Linked DNA regions of Homo sapiens. The protein of the gene in region 1 interacts with the protein of each later gene in a pairwise test. Each region holds a gene or a part of one and is shown in the gene's direction. Other genes may lie near its edges.

Evidence for each region.
Region 2: the proteins of NAGS (region 1) and TMEM39B interact in a two-hybrid assay, tested with the Homo sapiens proteins (one large-scale study listed by IntAct).

The regions. Positions count from the first base shown.
Region 1 is NC_000017.11:44,002,867-44,007,421, forward strand, and holds the start of NAGS (N-acetylglutamate synthase, mitochondrial), read left to right. Parts: upstream 1-1,755; 5' UTR 1,756-1,797; coding exon 1,798-2,223; exon of another isoform or gene 2,224-2,445; intron 2,446-2,770; coding exon 2,771-3,045; intron 3,046-3,157; coding exon 3,158-3,371; intron 3,372-3,662; coding exon 3,663-3,843; intron 3,844-4,456; coding exon 4,457-4,555. UniProt on the Homo sapiens protein: Plays a role in the regulation of ureagenesis by producing the essential cofactor N-acetylglutamate (NAG), thus modulating carbamoylphosphate synthase I (CPS1) activity.
Region 2 is NC_000001.11:32,099,993-32,103,510, forward strand, and holds the end of TMEM39B (transmembrane protein 39B), read left to right. Parts: intron 1-298; exon of another isoform or gene 299-449; coding exon 450-570; intron 571-748; coding exon of another isoform or gene 749-919; exon of another isoform or gene 920-1,079; coding exon of another isoform or gene 1,080-1,115; exon of another isoform or gene 1,116-2,122; coding exon of another isoform or gene 2,123-2,221; exon of another isoform or gene 2,222-2,438; coding exon 2,439-2,681; 3' UTR 2,682-2,871; downstream 2,872-3,518. UniProt on the Homo sapiens protein: May protect the cells against DNA damage caused by exposure to the cold-warming stress and facilitates tissue damage repair during the recovery phase.

The DNA.
Region 1 (4,555 bases):
ATTCCTCTACCACACAGAAGGCTTTGCTTGGTGCTAGGGTATCTTTAACACATGGCACCTGCTAACCTTCCATGTTACCAAGAAAGCAGGCAAGCTATGCAGATGGAATATAATGGAATGTAATAACATTGTTTTCCTCTCACTTGATTCTTTTTTAATTTTGATTTTAATTTTAATTTTAATTTTTTTGAGACAGGGTCTCATTCTGTCGCCCAGACGGGAGTGCAGTGGCACAGTCTCAGTTCACCGCAATCTCCTCCTCCCAGGCTCAAGTGATTCTCTGGCCTCCTGAGTAGCTGGGATTACAGAAACATGCCACTACTGCCTGGCTAATTTTTGTATTTTTAGTAGAGATGGGGTTTCACCATGTTGGCCAGGCTGGTCTTGAACTTCTGACCTCAAATGACCCACCCGCCTCCTCACTTGATTCTTAAGGCTTATGGCAAGTGATACTGGCCTAGTTACAGACCTAACATGGATAAACTTTAAGTTTAAAAAGGTTAAAGAGGGCCGGGCGTGGTGGCTCACGCCTGTAATCCCAGCACTTTGGGAGGCTGAGGCAGGTGGATCACGAGGTCAGGAGTTTGAGACAATCCTGGCCAACATGGTGAAACCCTGTCTCTACTAAAAATACAAAGATTAGCCGGGTGTGATGGTGTCTGCCTGTAATCCCTGCTACTCAGGAGGCTGAGGCAGGAGAATCGCTTGAACCCAGAAGGCGGGGATTACAGTGAGCCGAGATCGCAACACTGCACTCCAGCCTGGGCAATAGGGTGGGACTCCATCTCAAACAAACAAACAAACAAAAAAAAAAAAAAAAAAAAGGGTTACAGAGGTCGAGTGAAGTAGCTCACACCTGTAATCCCAGCACCTTGGGAGGCAGAAGTGGGAGGACTGCTTGAGCTCAGGAGTTCACGAACAGTCTGGGCAACATGGTGAACACCCGTCTTCAAAAAAAATAATTTTTTTTTAAATCAGCTGGGCATGGTGGTGTGCATTTGTGGTCCCAGCTACTAGGGAGACTGAGGCAGGAGGATCATTTGAACCTGGGAGGTGGAGGCTGCAGTGAGCTATGATTGCACCACTGTACTGCAGCCTGGGCAACAACAGAGTGAGACCCTATCTCAAAAACCAAAATAAAAAACTCTATTTTATTTTATTTTTACCAGATGTGATATTCGATAAAGAAAAGCATTAACACTAAAGTATTATAAGTTTTGAGGGGTGTTTTGAGGATATCACAGAATTCCTCAAGCTGGTACCCAGTGACTGGAGTTTGGCAAACCCTGGTAACCTCATGGTCATTCATTAGGATCTTTTTTGAGCTCAGGCAACAGGACAGACAAGGCCAGCACCACCCGCCCCCGCCCTCCCACTGCCCCCCTTCTTCTACTCTTTCCAGCGCCCTCCTTCCAGCCCCCTGCCCAGCCCTGTGCTCAAAGCCACCTACAGTCCCTTCTTCTCTGGTCAGAATGCCAATCATCCAAGGCCCTGCAGACTCCCAAAGCCGCCCCTGGAACCTACCTTGGCAGCAGATTAAAGACAACCCGCCACATTTAGTCTCGGCCCCATGACCGATAGTGGGTTCAGTTCCTCCAGGGGCGGGGGAGCCTAGTGGCCCCGCCCCCTGACTCATGGCCTGACCCTCCTCAAACGCACCCAGAGGAGACTCCTGGTCCCCTGTCCGGACCCCGCCCCGACCAGGTCCAGCCCCGCCCAACGGCAAGTTAAGAGCCCCCCAGTGCCAGACGCTCCAGACAGACTGCCACTCTTGGGGGGCAAGAGTTGGTTGTCGTCATGGCGACGGCGCTGATGGCTGTGGTTCTGCGGGCAGCTGCTGTAGCCCCGAGGCTGAGAGGCCGGGGAGGCACTGGGGGCGCCCGAAGGCTGAGCTGTGGCGCGCGGCGGCGGGCGGCGAGGGGCACCAGCCCGGGGCGCCGGCTCAGCACCGCCTGGTCGCAGCCCCAGCCCCCGCCCGAGGAGTACGCGGGCGCGGACGACGTCTCCCAGTCGCCCGTCGCCGAGGAGCCGTCGTGGGTGCCGAGTCCCAGGCCCCCGGTGCCCCACGAGTCCCCAGAGCCTCCTTCGGGCCGCTCGCTGGTGCAGCGGGACATCCAGGCCTTCCTGAACCAGTGCGGGGCCAGCCCTGGGGAGGCGCGCCACTGGCTCACGCAGTTCCAGACCTGCCATCACTCCGCGGACAAGCCCTTCGCCGTCATCGAGGTGAGCGGAGCCCGGCGTGGGCCGTGACGCAGCGAGGGGATGGGGTTGTGCGGCCACCTGTCCTCAGGCATGGCAGGATACGCTGCGGGCTCTGCGCAGCGGAAGCGGGAAGGAGCCCGGCAGGGCCCAGACCAGCGCCGCCGGGAATGGGAGAGGCCGTAAGCTCCTCCGGAAGCCTCCCGCCCAGCCCGAGTGAGGATCCTGGGGGACCCCACCCGCCAGGTGTGATGCTCTGAAGAAGGCCCCCAACATGGGCGCAGTTAGGGGTTCAGAAGGACCTGGACAGGAGCCGCTTGCACTGCCCCTCCCCCAAAGATGTCCCGGAGTCCAAGGTCGGAGGGAGGAGGGCGGGAGGTACCCCAGCGTGAGACAAGGGAGTGGCAAGACCCAACGGGGCAAAGGGCGGAGCAGGTGGGCACTGGTGGCCAGAACTGGGTCCTGACAGCTTCTGGAAGGGTAGGGTCACCGAGACGGCCCTGCAGGCCAGGCTGTGGGAGCCAGCGGCTCAGGTCCGTGTCACGCTCCTTGAAAGCCCACTCCTCCGCAGGTGGACGAGGAGGTGCTCAAGTGCCAGCAGGGCGTATCCAGTCTGGCCTTTGCCCTGGCCTTCTTGCAGCGCATGGACATGAAGCCGCTGGTGGTCCTGGGGCTGCCGGCCCCTACGGCTCCCTCGGGCTGTCTTTCCTTCTGGGAGGCCAAGGCGCAGCTGGCCAAGAGCTGCAAGGTGCTGGTAGACGCGCTTCGACACAACGCCGCCGCTGCTGTGCCATTTTTTGGCGGCGGGTCTGTGCTACGCGCTGCCGAGCCGGCTCCCCATGCCAGGTGAGTGCCCGCCCTGCCCGCCCAGGCGTCCTCAGAGCGTGCTACTCTGCCCGCCCTGCCCCGTCCGGCAGGCCTGGAGGGGGCCCTCTCGAGCACCACGTCTGGCCCACAGCTACGGCGGCATCGTCTCGGTGGAGACAGACCTGCTGCAGTGGTGCCTGGAGTCGGGCAGCATCCCCATCCTGTGCCCCATCGGGGAGACGGCCGCGCGCCGCTCCGTGCTTCTCGACTCCCTGGAGGTGACCGCGTCGCTGGCCAAGGCGCTGCGGCCCACCAAAATCATCTTCCTCAATAACACAGGCGGCCTGCGCGACAGCAGTCATAAGGTGCGGCCCTTTCTTTCACCTTCCCCCACGCCGGCGATCCGGGCCTTCTCTTGCGCCCCTCGCACTTCTCCCCGACGGGCCGCAGACTCACTAGCAAGCCGGGTGGGTAGAAAAGCCTAAGGGAGTATAGGGGAGGAGTTCAGCCCTGGGTGCCCAGATCTGCGCCCTCCCTGGCTAAGGACTCCGGGCGGAAGTAAGGATAAAGGGGTCAGAGAAAAGAGAGGTCCGTGGGGGTAGGGGGGCAGTCCGTGCCGGCTGTGGGCCAGGCTCACCCGCTGACTCCGGACACAGGTCCTGAGTAACGTGAACCTGCCCGCCGACCTGGACCTGGTGTGCAACGCCGAGTGGGTGAGCACAAAAGAACGGCAGCAGATGCGGCTCATCGTGGACGTGCTCAGCCGCCTGCCCCACCACTCCTCGGCCGTCATCACCGCCGCTAGCACGCTGCTCACTGAGCTCTTTAGCAACAAGGGTGAGGGCGGTGGGCGGGCCGGGGACTGGGTCCCGGGAGTGAGTACTGGCCGGGGCTGGGTGTCTGCGGTCAGGAGGAGCGGCTTCTCCTCCTGTCCAGGAGCCGTAGGGGGAGGCGGGGGGTGTCACAGCAATGGCTCCTGCTGCTGCCGAAACCCGGGGGAGGTGAGAGAGGAGGAGACCCAGTGTACTGGAAGGGAACTCCGAAGGAATTAAAGGAATGGGCGGGACTAGGGGGGAGAAGGAGGGGCCCCCCGGTGGGCGGGGCCAGGGGCGGGACCATAAGGGAGGTGTTCGACCGGGAGAGATGGGCGGGGCTTAGGTGGGTGGGCCGGGTCAGCGGCGGGAGACAGACTTCAAGGAGCGAGGCAAGACTAACGGAAGTGGGTGGGGCTCCAGGCGACAGGAGGAACTTGGGGCACAATCTCTGCCTGGGGAAAGCATCTCCTTGAATGAAAATCACAGACAAATCTATGCAGACCACTGAAATCATTTCACTGTGGAGGTCTCCCAAAGACGGAAATTGTCCCACCAGCGCCTGTCCTACCTGCAGTCCCCACCAGGCTGCGCAAACGGCCCTCCAGCCAGACTAGCCCCTCCCCATCCTCCTCCAGGGTCCGGGACCCTGTTCAAGAACGCCGAGCGAATGCTACGGGTGCGCAGCCTGGACAAGCTGGACCAGGGCCGTCTAGTGGACCTGGTCAACGCCAGCT
Region 2 (3,518 bases), on another chromosome or scaffold:
GCCAAGATTGTGCCACTGCACTCCAGTCTGGGCGACAAGATCGAAACTCATTCTCAAAAAAAAAAGCCCACAAAGAGTTTTAAGCAGAGGGTGGTCAGGCTGAGCTTAGTATTTTACAAAGACCACTCAGACAACTGTGTGGTGGACCACTTGGAGGCAAGAGGTGAGACCAGATGAAGCAAAGGGACCCAGAGAGGAAGAAGGGTTCTCTCAACAGTCTCTTAGTAATTAATGTCAGCCCTAGACCACCTAACTCACAGTACAGTGAATTCCTCATGATTCTTACCCCATTTTACAGAGGAGGCAACTGAAACCCAGAAAAGGAAAGTCAGCGTGTCTAAGTGATAGAAATGGGAGTAGAGCCCTGGTGATTCCCTCCTGCCCATTCTTCTGGTATCCCTTTTGTGGGTGAGCTGGGGATAAGGGGCACCATTGAACTGTGCCCCCAGGTGGACTGAAGAATGCATGTGGCCGCAGGGCGTGCTGGTGAAGCACAGCAAGAACGTCTACAAAGCCGTAGGCCACTACAACGTGGCTATCCCCTCTGACGTCTCCCACTTCCGCTTCCATGTGAGTCTCCTCCCCGGGGAAGGAGGGTTGGGGCCTGAGAGGGTGGGAGGATCTGCAGGGCAGGAATGTGATGTCATTGCAAGAGAAAGCTATTTTCAGTATTTCCCCAATCCAAAGGAAGACAGTGCACACATGTAGCACAAGGACAGCCATATAAATTGTCACTTAATAACTGCAGCTCGGCCGGGCATGGTGGCTCACGCCTGTAATCCCAGCACTTTGGGAGACCAAGGCAGACAGATCACCTGAGGTCAGGAGTTCAAGACCAGACCAGCCTGGTCAACATGGTGAAACCTCGTCTCCACTAAAAATACAAAAATTAGCCAGGTATGGTGGCGGGCGCCTGTAATCCCAGCTACTCGGGAGGCTGAGGAGGGAGAACCACTTGAACTCAGGAGACGGAGGTTGCAGTGAGCCGAGATCATGCCACTGCACTCCAGCCTGGGCAACAGAGCAAGACTCATTCTCAAAAATAAATAAATAAATAACTGCAGCTCATTTGGTTGTAGATCTTTGAGAACATTGGACAGAGGGAGAGAAGATGATACAGTAAAAGAAGGGGCTCTTGGCAGTGAAAGACAATACTGTCTTCATTTGTTACTGTGTGCCAGGCATGTCGTTAAGCACTCTCCATGTACCTTCCTACTCAGCCTTACCCTGAACCTTGTACGTGAAAGATATGCTAGGGTTATCTCTGTTTTTAGATACTGAAATCAGCTAAGAGAGTTTAACTTGTTAAAGGGTGCCTTCTTGGGAAACTTGAGAACCTAATGGTAATGACTCATGACTTAGCTATGGAAAGGGCTGCTCAAAATTATCTAAACTAGTGATCTCTATTTTTTTTTAAATTTCACTATGAAATCCCCTCCCCCCCTTTTTTAAAAAAAACAATCAGAGGCCAAAATCCAATATATGGGACATCCTGGCACTGCTCTGTTTGGAGGAGTTAGAACCCCCTTCACTTCCTGCTCACCCCCGCTGTAACTCCTAAAGGATCCCCTTGAAACCTGGGGCTCTAAGGAACACAGCATGAGAAATCACTGACCTAGACTGATGTCTTCATTTCACAGTTGAGACATCCAAGCCCCAGAGAGGAAAGGGACTTGACCAAAGTATTGCAGCCTGTTAGGTGCAGAGCTGAGCCTGATATCCTGGTCTCTTGGCCTCCCATTTCCTACCACTTCTCCTGTCCTGTAAGCAGCTCTTGAGATTTAGGTACCTTGGCCCCTGTGGAATCAAAATCCCTAGACACTGTGCACTCTTTTGAACTCATCAGAGATTTTTTTTTAGTCCCTACGTTCTACCTTGCTGTTGAGAGTGAGCTGTTGCCATGTCCCTTGGCAGCTTCCAGCCTAGCTAGGGATGTACCTATGAAGTAGTAGGTAATTCAGGCTGTAGAGTCTGTAATAACTTTCCATGCCTATGTCATAGGATTCTAATTTGTTCAGGCCCAGCAATACCCAGGAGATGACATTAAAAGGTGTTGATTTTATTGAGGGTCAGTGGATGAGGGAGAAAAAGTTTTCAAAAATTAAAAAAAATTTTTTTAAAGGTGTTGACTTTAGACCACAAAAAGAGTTTGAGAGAGCAAGCAGAACCTGTCAAGAAAGACTTCCTAGGGGAGGTAGAAGTTGAACAGGATCTTAGATGACTTACATCAGAAGCAGCAGTCCTATCAGGAGGAATACCACAAGCAAAGGCAGATGAGGTGGCAAAGTCCACATCCAACCCCAGAAAGTCTTCTTCCCCACCCATGTCTGCATGGGGCCCCAGGAGGCTGTCCCCTTCACTGGCCCACCCAGAACCCCCATCCAGGAGGAAGATTTCTGGAGCACACCTTTTAGCCATGCCCACCCGCTTCCGGGCAGTTCTTTTTCAGCAAACCCCTGCGGATCCTCAACATCCTCCTGCTGCTGGAGGGCGCTGTCATTGTCTATCAGCTGTACTCCCTAATGTCCTCTGAAAAGTGGCACCAGACCATCTCGCTGGCCCTCATCCTCTTCAGCAACTACTATGCCTTCTTCAAGCTGCTCCGGGACCGCTTGGTATTGGGCAAGGCCTACTCATACTCTGCTAGCCCCCAGAGAGACCTGGACCACCGTTTCTCCTGAGCCCTGGGGTCACCTCAGGGACAGCGTCCAGGCTTCAGCCAAGGGCTCCCTGGCAAGGGGCTGTTGGGTAGAAGTGGTGGTGGGGGGGACAAAAGACAAAAAAATCCACCAGAGCTTTGTATTTTTGTTACGTACTGTTTCTTTGATAATTGATGTGATAAGGAAAAAAGTCCTATTTTTATACTCCCAACAAGCCTGTGTCCTGTGGTTCTTTTCCTTCGTGTGTGTGAGACCTATTACAGAGGTGTGGGATTCTGGTTTAGGAAGCCCCAACATGTGGCTTCTGAAGCCTCTGTGGGTACTGCCTTCTTCAGTAGAGAGGAGATGAGAAGGCACTGGAGGCCACGGGAGCAGTGATAGCTACTGCGAACTGAATGCTCACTGTGTGCCAGATGCTGCTCTGTGTGTATTTCAGGCCTTGCCTTAATCTAACTTTTATGACAACCCTAGGAGGAAAGTGCTATCACTCCAATGGATGAAGAACTGGAGCTCAGAGAGTTATAGTGACTTGCCCGTAGTAACACAGCTAGGAAGTGGTAGAGCTGGACATAAAACCTCTGAAAGGCCGGGCACAGTGGCTCAAGCCTGTAATCCCAGCACTTTGGGAGGCCGAGGTGGGCAGATCACTGAAAGCCAGGAGTTCGAGACCAGCCTGGCCAAGATGGCAAAACCCCATCTCTACTAAAAATATAAAAATTAGCCAGGTGTGGTGGCGCATGTCGGTAGTCCCAGCTACTTGGAAGGCTGAGCCACGAGAATCGCTTGAACCTGGAGGCAGGGGTTGCAGTGAGCTGAGATCGCGCCATTACACTCCAGCCTGGGTGACAGAGCAAGATG